Regions from separate parts of the Homo sapiens genome. Here region 2 is linked to region 1. A link means that fine-mapping ties the variant in region 1 to the expression of a gene that starts in the linked region. Tissue or cell type: cerebral cortex. Region 1 holds a variant in brackets; the other region holds the start of a gene. All regions are shown on one strand. Distances are from middle to middle.

Region 1 (8,101 bases):
ACAACTCTTAACATTTGCCTTCCCACAATCAAAACTTAAATATATTTTATACCTAAAACTGGCTTTGGGATTTGCCAGGGACCTTCTGGAAAATCTCAAAGGATTAGTTCTTTCACCTTGTAACAAGAAAGGTGCAAAAACTAATTAGTCTTATTTAATATTGTATAAATTGCATTGGAAACATTGTCAAATCAAAAAAAAAATGCAGAACCTTCCCTAAATTAGTCTATAATGGGTAAAATGTCCTTAATATAAATATTTTAGAAATTCCATAGAATTCCTAGCGGGGTTTCAGTGTCCTCAGTGTACATGAGATATTGCTCTTTATCAAAGCCCCAGTGCTGCTTTGCCTTATATTAGATAAGAACAATACAAGGTTATCAATCATCATTTCAATTATGGGAAATTCACATTGCTCACTGATGGAATATTGTTAATATACAGATGTTTAGGACCTTTCCTGAACTGCCAATTTGATTTTATTCTGCACCCAAATCTCATGGTTATAAATATGTTCTTACTAGTTTATTTATGTTTTTCTCACTGGCTTGAAGCTTTCCCTTATATAAAAGGATCATTGCCACTAATGTTATTAAGCTTTTGTTAGAACAAGTATTCCCCACATGTGGAATTCTACCGCTTCTTTCAAATGACTAAGGAATCCATTTCCCCAGTAAAGTCATCCAAGAAATATAATGAGTTCTTCCTTTATCCCCCAAATTACATTGTCCTTATCATCCCCAGTCGTCTGAAATGATGGAAACAGTGGAGTATTAAAGTGAAAACTTGCCAACTGATGAAAAACTCAATCTCCCATGGCCTAAGGTTTTACCCTTAGCACTGACTGTCCTCTGGTCCTCTCGTGCTGGGTCATACGTACTCTCCCTCCATATGATATAATAACTGGCCCACCCATGAGATCTCCCTAGTGTCTAGACTCTCAAAGATTCTAATCTGGTCAATTCAGACATTTAAAAATAATGACAAGGATTTTTTTTAATTTTTCCATCTACTCTCCCTCGAAGTTCTGCTACTATCGTTGCCTACATCTCTGAAGGCTCTCACTCTGCCTGTCTCTGCCCTTCTTGGAACTCCAGGCTAGTTATCCACTAGGAGAGCACATCTAGTGGCTTTCTTCCTGGCGTGTGCCCAGACTAGGGCTGAGGGAATGCTTGCTACTTAGAACTATTAGCAGTAAGCAGCCCTTAAGCCCCTGGCCCACAGACTCTAAATGCTGCCCATCAGGTGCCATGACATAGTTGACCCTTCCTGATGAACCTAGCCTACTGAGATGCCATGCCAGTGACCAGACCCAAAGACTGCAAATAGAGAACCCCAGGGGGCCCGGAAAGGGGATTTGTCTACAGTCGCACCCCAGCATGCTACAGGATTTAGACCACTAAGAGGAACAGGAGAAGAGCACTTGCAGAGTGCTGCTGTCTGCCTCAGCAAAACAGCAGTGTGCCAGGGCAATCCAGCCAGGCCAGCCTAGGTAGGGCCTCCACCTGAAAGCCAGAGGCTTGCCTCAGGTGCCCTTGTCAGCTTGGGATCTCCACGGACCAGGCATTTGCTCAGTCAGTTGCAGGCAGTATAGAGGCAGGTTAGAGATACTTTGGCCACCACCTAAGCCAGGAGGGGTCACATACTCCACTCACTCGACCAGAAATGTGGCTTTCTAAATTGTCACTTCCCTCTCCGTCACTGCTCTCCCAAGTCTTACCTGTCATCCAATTTGGGATCTCTTCTACTTATTTTACAGTTCTGTCTCCATCTCCACAGCTAGTCCCCTAGTCCAGGCCCCATCATTTCTTACATGGAGGATGCTGTAAGCACTTCCTCTTCTCCCTGCTCCACTCTGCCCACTTCAGTCACTCTTCTCACTGCCACTGGAGATCCCATTGCAAAGCAATACTCTCGCCATATCACTCCCCTGCTTCAAACCTTCCTGGCTCCTCTTTGCCCTCGAAAGAAAATCTAAAGTCCTTGTTATGGCATAAAGTTCTGATCCTGCCCATCTGTGTCAGGGGTCCCCAAGACCATCCCTAGGCTTGGTGATTCACAAGAAGAACTCACAGGACACATCACATCATCACACTCAAGGCTATGGTTTATTATAGTGAAAAGATACGAAGCAAAATCAGCAAAGGGAAAAGCACACAAGGCAAATTTCTGAGGGAACCCGGGCACAAGCTTCCAGAGTCCTCTCCCAGTGGGTCACACAGGATTCACTCAGTTCCCCTCAGCAGTGAGTTGTGACAACAAGTGTGAAATGCTGTCGACCAGGGCAATTCATGAGAGACTCAGAGTCCAAGGATTTTATCGGGGACTGGTCACGTAGGCACCCTCTGCCCAGCCTTTACCTAACATGCACACGTTGCTTTCACCTATAGGAAACCTTCCCCATTATCTTGTAGCTGTAATTATCTGCTCACCCCTCCCACATCCATCACGTCACAGCCAGTTTCAGAGTGTGTACCCCATCAACTGCACCTGCTTATCCTCCGCTCCCTCCTCAATCCATTATAATCCAACTACAGCCTTTCCCACTGCCCCAACCTACTCCCCTCAAGGCAGTCATGAGTTCTACATAGCCAAATCTGATGGGCCTATTTCAGCATCTACAGAGCACTGGAAAGTTAGCTCAGCGTGGCTTGGTTTCCATGACGGTAGTCTTTCCTGATTCTTCCATTTATCCAAAATTTTCCTTCTCAATACCTCTCTGTAGCTCCTCTTCCTCCTTAAGACCTTTTGGAATTATTTTCCAAAATTATGGTCCATCTGCCTTTGCTTCTCTCATATTTTTACTTCTTTTCATTTTATATATTCAGCTAGGGTTTTAGGGGATCAATAATTAATATCCCCTCTTTTTTTCTTTTTGAGACAAAAGAAGAGCAGAAAATGGAGAGAAATGTCAGCTGATGAAGCAGCTTCCCTCAGCATCCCTGAACCACGTGGACTCACCCACCCAGCCAAGGGCCTGGCTGGACAACTGTCCCTGGAAGTCTGCAGAGAAAAGCCGAGAATACATGCTTTGTACACACTGCCTTCCAAAGGCATTCTCCAGGCAACCTCATGCATTCTCTTTAGTGACTTCCTATGAGCTGACAACTCCCAGCTCTCTAGCCCCAGGTCAGATCTTTGCTCAACTCCACATTTGTTTACTCAGTAGCCTACTGGACATCACTGGCTGGAGCCCCTACAGGCACTTCTCATTCGGCATGGCCCAGTGACCTTCTCATCTCTGTGCATCTCTCAGCGGGCCTGCCCCCAAACTCCTTACCCTCAGCTAGTTCCTGTCACCACCCATCCAATTGCCTAGCCCTGAAATCTGGGGAGCAACCTTGGCTACCACTTTTCCCTCACCGTTATCTTTATTTTTTTTATTTTTATTTTGGAGACAGGATCTTGTTTTGTTACCCAGGCTGGAGTACAGTGGCAGGAACATGGCTCCCTGTATCCTCGACGTGCAAGGCTCAAACAATCCTCCCACCTCAGCCTCCCAAGTAGCTGGTACTACAGGCATGTGCCACCACACCTGGCTAATGTTTTTAAATTTTTTGTAGAAATGGGGTCTTGCTGTGTTCCCCAGGCTAGTCTCAAACTCCTGGGCTCAAGCGATACTGCCACCTCGGCCTCCCAAAGTGCTGGGATGACAGGTGTGAGCCACCACGCCAAGCCCGCTTTTACCTTTAATAATTCAAAAATACTTGCAGCCTCATCACCTTGCCCCTGGTGTA[A/G]GCAAACAGTCTCCAATATGGCCTCCTGCCTTGTCTCGTCGTATACTCCCCTGGCCTGGTCCTCCACAGGGCAATGGAGGGATCTTCTTTGGACTCGAGTCTGGCTGTGGCACTCTCCTGCAGGAAAACCATCGGTGGCTCCCAAGGCCCTCAGGATGTGGGTCACACTCCTCAGCCTAGGAGCAGGTGCCTGCCCAGCCCCTACTTGGTGCTTCCTGCCAAGCCAGGCTGGATTAACCCTCCTTTGTGATGGCTACCTGACTGGATGTTCCCTATACACTTTGTGAGCCTCCACTCGGAATGCCTTCCCAAGCACGTCTGGCACATCTGGCAAAATCTCCCTCAGCCTTCCAAACCCAGCTCCAACATCACTCTCCCTGTAAAGAAAGCCTTTCCTGACACTCCCCCGCAAAACGAAAACAAAACCCAGAACCACTCGCCTCCTCCTTCATCCACAAGCCTCACTTTTTATACCCCTTCTGCATGGAACACTGACTAGTTCTAGAAGCCACACAATGTGACAGCAAGTCCAAAGTTGTTCACTCTGTTTTTGGACTGGGACCCTCCAGGGCCTGGAGCCAAGGAATCAAAGATGGGCTAGATATTCTTAGAAGGTAAAACTTGTTATCTAACAGTTGAGCTAGGCCCTAAAAATAACCTAACTATTAATAATTATGGAACCTCTGTGGTACAAGAAGCCCCAGAACAAAGAAGGCAGATGACTGTGTTTCTTTCATCCCTGCAAAAGGAACCCCAGGCTCCACCTGCTCCCCACAGCAGATGCCCTGCTGGATTCCACTAGCTCCTCTCTCGGGGCAATATGAGTCTTAGCTCTCTCCTTCTACATTTCTGTCTTGTGTAAGAAACTGTTCGCTTTGCACCCCTGGAATCACTGGCCTGTTGACGTGTCCAGAGCTGCAAGGACATGCAGTGTTTGCGCTGGCAGGCAAGATGCCTTCAAGAGAGCCTGACTTGAAACTCTCACACCAATGCCACATGGTCAGCTCCAGTAACAGGCACGTTTGTCCTCTTGCTCATGCACAGTGGCACACACCAACACATGGCCAGTCACATCCTGTGTCACTCTCTCATGCCTGCTCACACATGCTCCCTTTCTCTCCCTCTGGCCTCTCTCTCTCTGCTTCACTCTGTCACTTTTGCACTTTTACCCTCCTGTTTTTTTGCTCTTTCACACTCTGTCCTTCTCTGACAATGGCATTTTACCCACACAAATAGCCCTCACTCTGCCCAGGACCCCCACCTGTAGAGCACCTGTACTCTGAGAGACAGCCTTCCTTCCTGCCCCATGCATTGGGAATTAGCCAGGGCTTCTCACACCTGGGGACAGACACATCCTCCTATCACAGTCCCCTCCCAGCTCCTTGAGCCACAAGAAGCCTGATGACACTGCTCTAGGACCAGGGAATCACCATGACCCACTCACAGAACAGGAGCCTGGGTGTGCAATGTGTCGGGTATTGGCACAGGGTGTGGGGAAGTGGTTCCCATGTGGGTCGCAGACCTCAACAAAAACATGGGCTCCAGAGGCAGAGCCCACTGCAGCTCAGCCCTTACCTGCTGCCACAACTCTCTCGTCTGACAAGTTGCTCAGATCCGCTGGGGCTGCTCTGCCGCTCTGGGGTGCTGGGATCTGCAGGTTGCTGAGCGGGTACAGCTGGGTCTCCTTGGCCACCTCTTGGAGCTCCAGGCCTCTCCTGCCAGGCCTCTCCGACCCTGGTGGCCACATCCTTCCCCTCATAATCAGCCAAGGCCCTGAAGAAGAATAAGCACCCTTATGAAAAAAGTGCTCTGAAACTAACCCTGCCTCAGCCCCAGGACGCAAGCTGGCTGTCACCTCCTGTGGACTTGGAGGGACTCATATCCCTGAAAGCGGGGCAGAAAGGAGCCAGGCACAGCCCCAATTCCAGGGAGCAGACAGTCTCCTCCTTGGCAGGAGCCCAGCATCGCTGCTCCCTTCTCACTGAACAGGCCTCCATGTGTAATAGATGAAGCCGAAGCCTCCGATGTTTTTATTGTTGTTGTTTGGAGGCAGGGTCTCACTCTGTCGCCCAGGCTGGAGTGCAGTGGCATCATCTCGGCTCACTGCAACCTCTGCCTCCTGGGCTCAAGCCATCCTCCTGTCTCAGCCTTCTGAGTAGCAGAGACTACAGGTCTACACTACCACGCCCAGCTAATTTTTGTATTTTTTTTTTTTTCTGTAGAGACAAGGTTTCACCATGTTGCCCAGGCTGGTCTCAAGCGATCCTCCTGCCTTGGCCTCCCAAAGTGCAGGGATTACAGGCATGTGCCATTGCACCTGGCCCTCCAATTTTTGGCTTTTGCCACCCCTGAATCCAGCAAGAAGGACAGGGCTTCCCCCAGATGTCTCAGGCATCGAGCTCTTCAGGGGTCCTCCCTGGCCTCACCCCATGATTGCACTGCACCCTCCAATCTGGGTACCGTGGGAAAGAGGCTGCTAGCTGATCCTCCACTTCCACACCCCTCCCATCACCAGCCCCACACCGAGGTGCAAGGTACTGCTTCCAGAGTCTACTAGGCCAGGGGCAAACACCAAGTTGGGCTACTAAGAGAGTGAGCCCAGCATTTCAGAATGAAAATCTACTTCGCCATCACCTCGATCCTAGCTCACTCTGAATATAACCTTCCCAACATCACCAGCCTACCTTCAATAGCTGGTGGGGGCTACCCCGAGACAAGAACACGCTACAAACTACCCTGGGACTCTTTGTATATAGGAGTTAACTTTGTCTAGGCAGGCTTCCTGCCTTCAAGCTGGAATAACAAGGCCAACAGAGGCCACACTTTTTGGAAAGTATGCCCTGAAAGCAACATGATTCTTCAGCCTCAGGTGGAGGTCAAGGGAACTAAAATTCTCCAGCAGGCACAACAAGCTAATTGCCACCTCCAGCTGCACCAGGCAGAACTGCAGGCAAGTGAGTGTGACGCCACACAGTAACTGTGGGGAACCATCCCACTGGGCCTGTGCTTCTCTGTGCTGCTTCCACCCTTAGGGTCTGCTGCAGCCCATGCAGATCCAAAAGTGGTCTGCACAGGTAACACCAGTCCCAGGGTTGCCAGCAGGGTGCCCTGACACACCCATTCAATCTCTGTCAGTGACATGCTTGCTTGAGCCAAAGACAAACATACAAGGCCTGAAGAGCTTGTCTCCCTACTGTGGTAGCCCTGAGTTAGCTTTACTATGGATTTAATCAGAGTCCCGTCCTGTCCCACGTCCTCTGTAGAAATACACTAGTAGAGGTTGCCCTCACCAAGTCTGTGGATAGAGCCAGGATTATCCACAAAGAGAAATTTGGGCTCTATTGTGACACAGGGACAAATGGATGAACAAGGCTTCTTCTTTCCTAGGCCTGTGGCAGGGCCACTGTGATTTTAGGACATATGACCTATGTGGGTCATAAAAAGGAAATCTTAGGCAAACACTCACAGGAAGCTCTGCTGGACAATGTAACATCCAGGGGAATTACTTCCCAGCTATCCTGTCCGAGCTCCTCATGAACTTCCTGGAAGTCAAGTGGTTAGAGATAGGCAAGGTAACATAGGGGATGGTGACCAACGGGATTTTGGATTTTGGATTAATTTCTCTGAAGCCTTTCCTTCTGAGTGTAATTGGACCAAAGATCCAGTAGCCTAATACAGCCACTGTCAACTCCTAACACAACCATAATCTACACACTTCCATTCTTTTAAAAAACGGAAATTGTAGTCCCGGCGTAGTGGTTCACGCCTGTAATTTCAGTACTTTGGCAGGCAGAAGTGGGTGGATCAGTTGAGGTCAGGAGTTTGAGACCAGCCTGCGCAACATGGCAAAAACTCCTCTCTACAAAAATAAGCCAGGTGCAGTGGTGTGTGCCTGTAGTCCCAGCTACTTGGGAGGTTAAGGCAGGAGAATCACTTGAGCCCAGGAGGTAGAGGTTGCAGTAAGCCGAGATCACCCCATTGCACTCCAGTCTGGGGCGACAGAAGTGAAACATTGTTTCAAAAACATATATATATGAGATATACATCATATATATGATATACATATACATATACATATATAGATATAGATAATATTTGTAGAGATGAGGTCTCACTACGTTGCCCACGCTGATCTCAATCCCCGGAACTCAAGTGGTCTTCCCGCCTCGGCCTCTCAAAGTATAGGATTACAGGTGGGTATGAGCCACTGCACCCAGCTGACACTTCCACCCTTGTACTGCCTCCACTGGCCAACAACGGTTGCCAGTGGTGAGGAAATGTGGTGCCTAAACTTCACCTGATCCTCATGCAGAAAAAATATAAACGAGAAGCCCATGCTTGCAACATAATGAGGAAAACAGCAT
Region 2 (8,088 bases), 48 kb after region 1:
TTGGGTTTTATTTTTATTTTTATTTTTATTTCAGTTTAAAGCAGGCACTGCCTGATGTAAGCATTTTCACCAGGGATGCCGGTTCTTGTGATTAAAATCCTTGTGCTTGCTCTCTCCATAGCAACTCTTCGCCACATCAAGCTCTCTGGGAAACTGACCTAGTCATCACAAAGTGGCGTGCTGAGCCAAAGATCACAGGGACTAGACCAAGGGGCCCGGACTGGGTGCCCGAGCTGGGCCTACAGATGGGGCCAAGGCCAGGGACCACCGCCAGCAACCACCAGCAGCCTAGGGCTTGCCCACTGGCCCCAGAGGCTATGTCTCCTCTCTGACCCAGGGCGTGGCTTCAGAGCTCTGCCGCCATCTCAGCAGCAGCAGCCCCAAGGGCAGCTCTGCGGGAAGAGGGATGGCTCAGCGGGCGTTAATGAGTGGGTGAGGAATTGCTCTCTTGGCTGGCCTGGACCCACCTCCCTGCTCCAGGCAGGCACCCTCCCAGTTCCTAGCTCCCTTTTGAGGTGAGAAATGAGCACACTCCCAACAGGAAAAGCCTAGACCGTGTTTCTGAAAGTGGCCTCTGGGACCCTTCGGCAGTCAAATTCCCTGGGAGACACGCTTAAGCTGCAGATTCCTTCCTGCATTCCACCTCCGACATTGAGAGTGATACCCACAGGGCCTCTTGTCTTTTCCTTTTCCAGTCTCTTCTCCACTCAGACCTGTCCCTCCCACTTTGCTGTCAGTTCTCAGTCATTTCTGTGCCCCAGCGCCCAACACAGAAAGTGATCAAGAAAACACCTGCCAAATGCATCAATATGTGTCCCTGAGAGAAGTTAATCTGGCTCAGTTTCTAATCAATGGCACTTGAGCAAGTCCCTCTCTGTGCCTCAGTTTCCCTTTGGAAAAATGAACTGACAACAGCCCTGCCCACCCTCTGACCCATCCAAAGGCTACAAGTGAAGAAAGCTAATGAGAAATGTGGCAAAATGTTAATAGCGGGAATTCAGATAAGGCTTCAGGAGTTCTCTGCACGATTCGTACAACTTTTCTATGAGTTTTAAATCAATTCAAGGTAAAAAAAAAAAAAATTAAAGATAAAAAGTAACAACAGTGCTGGCATGGTGGCACTCGCCTGTAGTGCCAGCTACTCGGGAGGCTGAGGCACGAGGATCGCTTGAGCCCAGGAGTTGGAGGCTGCGGTGTGCTATGATCATGCCTGTGACTAGCCACTGTACACCAGCCTGGGTGACAAGGCGAGACCCCAGCTCTAACAAAAAAAAAAAAAAAAAGTGAAAACAAAAAAGAAAGCGAGTCAGACTTTAGTAGGCATGAGAAATCACCCTAAGAATTAAGTGTTCTTTAGTGAGTCACTTTAAATGTGGGTAGATACTGTTTGCATCATCAGCAGTAATTTCTAAACTGTTTTCCTCAGGTAGGGGCCCACATCCCAGTCAGCATCTCTCTCTCCACCTAGTCCCACTTCACTCCTTGCCACCACAGCCCTGAAGGAGGGCACCATAGTCCTGGCTCAGCTACCTTCCGTGACAGAGCACCTCTGTGCCAGGAACCTAGCACTTGCAGGCACCCAGTGCAGCAGGTGCTCCTGGCTTTAGCCACCCTTCAGTACTGGTGAGAAAACAGAGGCCTCAAGGGGTTGCATGAAGGGCCGAACTTTGCACAACTGGATGGTGGCTGAGCTGGGGTTTGAACCCAGGCTGACCTCTGAGCCATTCTCTTAACCACTAGGCTATGAAGGTGCCACCCTCACCTGCCACACACCTGACCAGGTGTGGGACAGTTCAGCCCCTCCTCCTCTTCCCGGCCTTTGGAAGCAATGATGGCAACCTCTCCTGAGCATCTCTCAGGGACTGGTCCCCTGATGGCACTGCCCTTGTCTTGGCATCAGCCGGTTCACTATGGGCACAGTGGTAACGAATGCAAAGTCCCTGGACTGACCCTAAACATGAGAGCCCAAAGGCCCGGACTGCAAGGGGTTGCCGCACTGGAGAGCAGCTCTCCTCTCTGGCACTGGTCCTGTCCCATGCCGCCAGGGACTGGCAGTGGGGGCAGCCTCAGGGCTCAGCAACAGAAGGAAAGCTTGTGTTACATGTGACCTGGCACCTTATAAGTTGTGGCTTGAAGCAAAACCCGCACCAAAGGGGGCAGTCACCTGTGGAAGCTTGAGTAGGGAAGGAGGAAGGCAGGCTTCTGGCTTCCAGAATGCACCGAGCCAGAATTGGGGGAGTTTGCTTGGCATGCAACTGAAGACAGTTCAGGGAACAAGTGCCGATGCCTATCGTGGCCAGGTCCTGGGCCCAGTGCTAGGGACCCAGAGTCCCTGCCCTGCCAGATCTCAGGAGGCCTTGGGGACACTGGGCAGGAAGACAAGGAGCACAAGTCAGGCTGAGGGAGGCTGAGCTGAGGCGCTGGCTGCCCCTGGCATCACTGGCCTCACGTGGGAAAGGCTTTTTCTGGAGTCTGGACTTGAGCTGAGCAGGAAGTGAGGTGGACAAGCACTGCTGCCATTTGGATTCAGATGGCAACTTCTTACTGACAGATGGCCTCTCTGTCACTCCTCAGGGCAAGGCATGGAGCTGATTTCTCTGTGGGCCCCCATATGCAGGAGCTCAGCAAGAAGTGGTTTATGATCTTTCAGGAGTAACGGGGAGGTTAGACTCCAGCAGCTCCAAAGGACGTGCGGGCCTTGACCTGGTGGCTGCCGAGCTCCTCCTCCTGCTTCCAAGCCCTTCGCCTCCAGGAAGCCTTCCCTGATCTTCCCAGCCAGGGGTGCCTCGCTGCTCCAGGACTGAGGAACCCCTAATGTTTTCATGCTACTCGGAGCTGCAACATCCTAAGTGGTCCTGGGCCACCTCTGTTGCTTGAGTCATGAGTGTCCAGAGGATGGAAATGAACAGATCTTGAGCACCTGCTGCGTGTCTGGCCCTGCACTGAGTGCCTTCCATCAGCTCCACACGGCTGAATGCACAGCATCCAGCCAGGGGCTGGGAATTGCTGGAAGGAGGGGCAGGTGAGAGGGATCTGTTCCTTCCCATCCTGAAGTGGCCTGGGAGCGATGAGGGGAACAGCGGAGGCACCAAGGCCTGCCAGAAGGCTGGCCCCTCATCTGTGCATCTGTGTCTTGGCCACTTGCTGGCCTCTGAGCTGCCCCTTGTTTTTCAGATGAGGAGCGGAGGCCCTGGGAAGGCAGGACCTCTGCAGCTCTGTTCAGGCCTATCAACCTGTGCACCCCTGCCTCCCGCCCCCAGCCAGGTACGACAGCCAGAAGTCTGAAGGGCCATGAGACCAAGGCAGGACTTAGTCCAGGTACTGAAGCCTCAAGCACTGCTGGATGGGGTGTGAGAGGCCCTCTCTCGGGGCTCACAGCTTTGGGGCCTCCCATGATGCCAAGGCTTCGTGCCGACGGCTCAGCAAGAACACAACTCCTACCATGCCTCAGATGTCCCAAAGCCGGGACACACCCACCACCTACTTTATCTGAGTCCCCAGCAGCCCTGGGTGGGAGGCAGCTTGACGTGTCACCCCCTTAAACCGACAGAGTACCCAGGTGTCCCCAGCTCAGAAGTGGCAGATCAGGCAGGAGCACCTGAGCTTTCGGCCTTTTTGTAAGGCAAGGTATCCCTCTGCCTTTCCAAAGAGGACAGACTCTTGGCTCCCTCTGCCCCCATCAAAACAATCCAGCCACAGAGCTGGTGCAGTGCCGATCCTGTCGATAACACCCAGTGACACCTGATTCGGCGCCTTCTGTCTGAGTGTGAGCAGCCACCATCCTCATGGCCCTCCCCAAGATTGCCCTGTACCCAGCACATGCACCTCACAGGCCCCAGGGCGATTGAGGGGATCCTCTGGGTGAGCCAGCCTCTGGGTCTCAGTTTCCTCATCTATAAAATGGGCACAGGGGGACGGAGGGATATGAGATTCCCTGATTCTTAAAGGCCTGCAGTCAACTCTCAGAGCATCCTGGCCCCTCGCCGTTTACTAACAATTAAACCGTGTCTTTCCTAAAGGGCAAGACAGAGGGATCAGGCTGGCAAGGGGGACACTTGCCTCTGTAGGGGACGCTGGCCTCCTCTGCCTGTCAGTCTTTTCACTCACAGCGAAAACCAGAAATCCACTGACTCCCGGGGGGAACCCGAAGAGAGATGCTTGGAGCTGGTAAGGGTTATGGATGGGGAAACTGAGGCCCTGACTTGTCCCCAGCTGGGCACGGACTGGGTGCCCCCCACTGCCTCCAAGCAGGGCCGCATCCAATGGCGACTCGACAGCCCTACCTGGCACCGGTGCCCGGCTCGTGGGGCGGGTGGAGGGTCGGGCAGTCGCAGGGCGCGGGCTCCCTCGGGTGGACGGCGCCCGGCCGGGCCGGGCCGGGCCGGGGAGGCAGGCGCGGGGCGCGGGGCGCGGTGCACAGCGGGGAGCGCGCAGGGAGGCGAGGAGGCGCGGACTGGGCTCCGCCCGCAGGAGAACAAACAGGTTTTCTCCGGCCGCCCGGAGCCTCGCCCCTCGCCCCTCCCCTCGGCCGGCCCCTTCCTCTGCCCCTCCTGGGGTAGGTAGAGGCGCCTGGCACATTCCGCACATTCTCCCGCCAGCGTCCTCCGCCCGCCCGCCCCTTCTCGGCCCCGCCCCGCGGGGCTGCTGGAGAAATCAAGTCTGGGGCTCCCCTTGTCGAGCACGGGGCGAGCTCCAGAAGGCTCTGCCGTGATGGAAAACTTCCAGGCAAATTCCTCCGGGCCCGTGGCCCCCAGGCCGGGAAGCCTCCGCCACGTGAAGGGCCCCCGCTCCTAGTTGCGCGATCTGGCCCCGGCACAGGGCCAACGACTTCCACAGATGCTGTCGGGTTAATTCAGTCGAGAACTACCGTTCCTAGATCCATTTTACAGATGGAGATCCCAGACAGGGGCGGGGAGGGGGGCGGGGGGCTGGCGGCTGAGATCATCCAGGAAGTCCTGCAGGCAGGAAAGGAGGAGAAGAGTGAGGGAGCCGCTCATCGTGGAAGGCCATCCTGGGACGGACCCGGGGCTCACAAGGCACAGCAAACGGGGCTATCTCCCAGGCTGGGCGACGAGATACAGCCAGACTCCCAGAGCCAATGCGGTTTGATGTACCTGTGTCACGCGTTGGTGCTCACCGAGTGCTTTATTGTGTGCAAGGCCCTGGGCTGGGGCTAAGGATGGAGAGAGCATGGAGGAAAGACCCCTCACCCCACGGCCTCCCAAACAGGGAGACAATTAAGCCAGCCCAAGAAATGGCATGGACTTGGCCAGGAGTTGGCCTACCAGGGTGGTAGGCTCAAAAGAATGGACCAGCTGCTTCTCCTTCATCAAGGCCTGCCAATGTGGTGTTTCCATGGCCCTCCAGTCCACCCACTTCTCCCTGTGCCTGCTGCCACCACCCTAGTCCAGACCTGGCCCCGAAGACCAGCCTCCTTGCTGGTGTCCCCCTGCCTCTGGTCTTGCCTTCCTTTCCCTCAGTCTCTACACGGAGGTCAGGTTAAAAGTTCACGTGTGTCAATATGATCAGGTGCTCTCCTGCTTGCAACTCCTCCATGGCTTCCCATTGCTCTCAGGGTAAAAGCCAGACTCCTTGAGACGACCTATCCCTGCAGGTCCAGCCACTCTTCCCTTTGTTCAATACATTACAGCCACACTGGCCTTTTTCCATTGCCTTCTGAATACATCACATGGCGCTCACCTTGGGGTGTTTGCTCCTGCTCCTCGGACTCCCTAAAATGCTCTTCATCCCCGTCGGGCTAGTGAGCTCTTAGTCATTCTTCAAGCCTCCACCCAGTGTCCGGAAAGCCTCCCCTGCCTGCCACCCAGTCGAGCTGATCACTTCCTTCTGTGCACCCCTTAGTTCCCTCAGATGACATCAATCCAGCATAGTGGCTGTCACCCTCTATTGTTCTAGATCCTGAGCTCTGGGAGGGCAGGGCCCCTTCTGATTCATCACTGGGTCACGGAGACCAGCACAGGGCATCCGAAGAATTTGCAGAAGGAAGTGATGGATGGGTGAGTGAGGCTGTGGAAGCTGTCCTCATCCTTTTCTTCTTGGGGTTCATGAGATAGGGAGAAGGCGACCCTGTGTGTGCTTAGGGGGTTGTATATAAAGTCACTTCTGTTCATGTCCGTCTCTTGCCAACAAGCATTTTTCTGCTTCCAATATTGTATGCCCCTGTCTGGTGGCCAGCAACTAACACCTCCCCTCCTCCACTGTGGCTACTGGTGGCCATGGATTTGGCTTGGCATCTTACCTCCTAAACATGTTTACTGTATGACTTAGGCTGTGTCATACTCTTTGTCTGGGTCCCAGTCCTCTTCAAGAGCCCCTAGTTTGAAAGGGTAGAAGGTAGAAGACATCATGATGGGTGAGATGTAGGGCAAGGAAGAGGGAAAAGGCAAACTTGTTCAAGAGCCCTGAGTCAGGGGTGGGGGGCCCAGCTGGAGAGCATGAGCAAATGTGGTGTCCAACGGCACGGCCAGCAAGTGAGGACTGCCCCAGGCTGGGCCGCCCCAGGGCCTCAAGCTCTTCCCATGTCCCAGGTGACTCAGTCTCTGCCCAGGCCCGATCTGTCACGACTGCTCCAGCCAAAGAGATCAGCCTTCCCTGAACCCCTCCCTCCCTGCCAGGCTGCCAGGCCCTGCAGCTGATCTTGCCTGCAAACGGGTTTGACTTGAATGGTAACTGCCCTGCCCTGCCCTGCCCACCTGTCCATTGCCCCAACAGTCTTCCACTTCCACGCCTGCCAGGGCACCTCTAGTCACCTCAGCCAGGCTTCAGGCACCTGCTGGCTTCTTCAGCCTCTTCAAGCACCAGACATGCCCAAATGACATGTACCCAGATAGACCAAGTGCTCAAATACCACCAGGACGCTGCACAAGATGCTCCCTTTGTTTGGAATGACATTTCCTCCCCAGGGACACCAGGTGGCCTCCACTTTCTCTCAGCAGTAACATTATCTCCTTCATGAACCTTCCCTTAGACCTCCCTCAAGTTCTAGGCCAAGGCTGTGGTGGCTGCTGCCTGCCTCCAGGCTGGGCTCTGTCCCTACCTGGCCTGAGCTTGGCCCTATCCTTTCCTATTCACATCTCTTGCACTTTTCCACCCATCCGCAGCTCCAAGACAGGCCAGCTCCCACCCCCTGGCTCTGGCAGAGTTCTCCTGAAGTCCCTCCAGCTTAGGCAGCAGTGCCACCTCCAGGGGACTGGACAGTCTCTTCCCACCAACAAGCAGGCCCTCAGCAAGGCTCTAAGTGAGAGGTAGGGGCTTCAGGGTGGGGCCAGGCTGGGCTGTCTGGGCAGGCAAGAGGCTGAAAGGTAGAGGCAGGGAGTAGCAGGTGGTGAGCCCTGTGCTGGAGAAGCCATAGCTCACAAGCAGGCCGTGGAGGCAGCGTCTCTGGGAGGCTGCATCTAAGCAATGAGATGGGTAGCACGGCAGGTGGCTGCTGGGAAAGAACTGGCCAGCAGCACTCCTCAGCTCCAGGGGAGGCCCCATTCTGATCTCCAGGGCTGGGAAGAGAACTCAAGCAAGGTGATCTAGCCCCAGAGTTCCCAGGCTAGGAGGTGGGCACAGTGGCTCACGCCTGTAATCCCAGCATTTTGGGAGGCCAAGGAGAGAAGACCGCTTGAGCTCAGGAGTTCAAGACCAGCCTGAGCGATATGGTGAGACCCCGTCTCTACAAAAAATACAGAAAACAAAAAGAGTTACCAGGCTAGAGGGGGAGAAAGAGGGGTTGGGCCCTGAAAGCTGTCAGGCCGCAAAGCTCCCCCAGGCAGTGTCCTCAGCTAGAGGGGACTGAAGACAGGCAGGCAACCTCAACACTTCAGTTGTACAAATGGGAAAACAGAGGCCCACAGAGGGACAAGATGTTGCCAGGATTACACAGCTAGTCTGAGGCAGAGCTGGGCTTAGAACCTGGGGTTCCAGCTGCTCTGGATGGAGCCCCTGCCCAGCTGGAGAGAAGCTGGGGTGCTCAGGTTCATGTGCGGGGAGGGCTGGGCTCCTGCTTGATCCCTAATCCCCTCCTTCCCGGGGCCCGCCCTGCCACCTCATCCTCTTAAGCTCTTCAACCGGTTTACACTT

Alleles and levels. Positions count from the first base shown, and alleles are read on the strand shown. Sizes are in standard deviations (SD) of each study's normalised expression.
For the expression in cerebral cortex of the gene that starts at base 4,455 in region 2, allele A in region 1 goes with a higher level than allele G (moderate effect, 0.45 SD a copy in GTEx).

The links. PIP is the estimated chance that this variant, and not a neighbour inherited with it, causes the effect.
Region 2: ZNF185 starts here. The variant in region 1 is fine-mapped to the expression of ZNF185 in cerebral cortex (GTEx, PIP above 0.99).

Annotation. Positions count from the first base shown.
Region 1 is chrX:152,942,676-152,950,776 of GRCh38, reverse strand. It overlaps ZNF185 (zinc finger protein 185 with LIM domain), which reads right to left. Exons shown (of 25, transcript NM_001395254.1): 18 at 5,313-5,510. Among named protein-coding and RNA genes, the nearest start is that of PNMA5, 47 kb to the left of the region's middle. The variant A/G (reference allele first, on the strand shown) is at 3,738.
Region 2 is chrX:152,894,434-152,902,521 of GRCh38, reverse strand. ZNF185 (zinc finger protein 185 with LIM domain) reads right to left here and starts at 4,455. Exons shown (of 25, transcript NM_001395254.1): 1 at 4,284-4,455. RefSeq lists enhancers at 312-834, 4,703-5,203.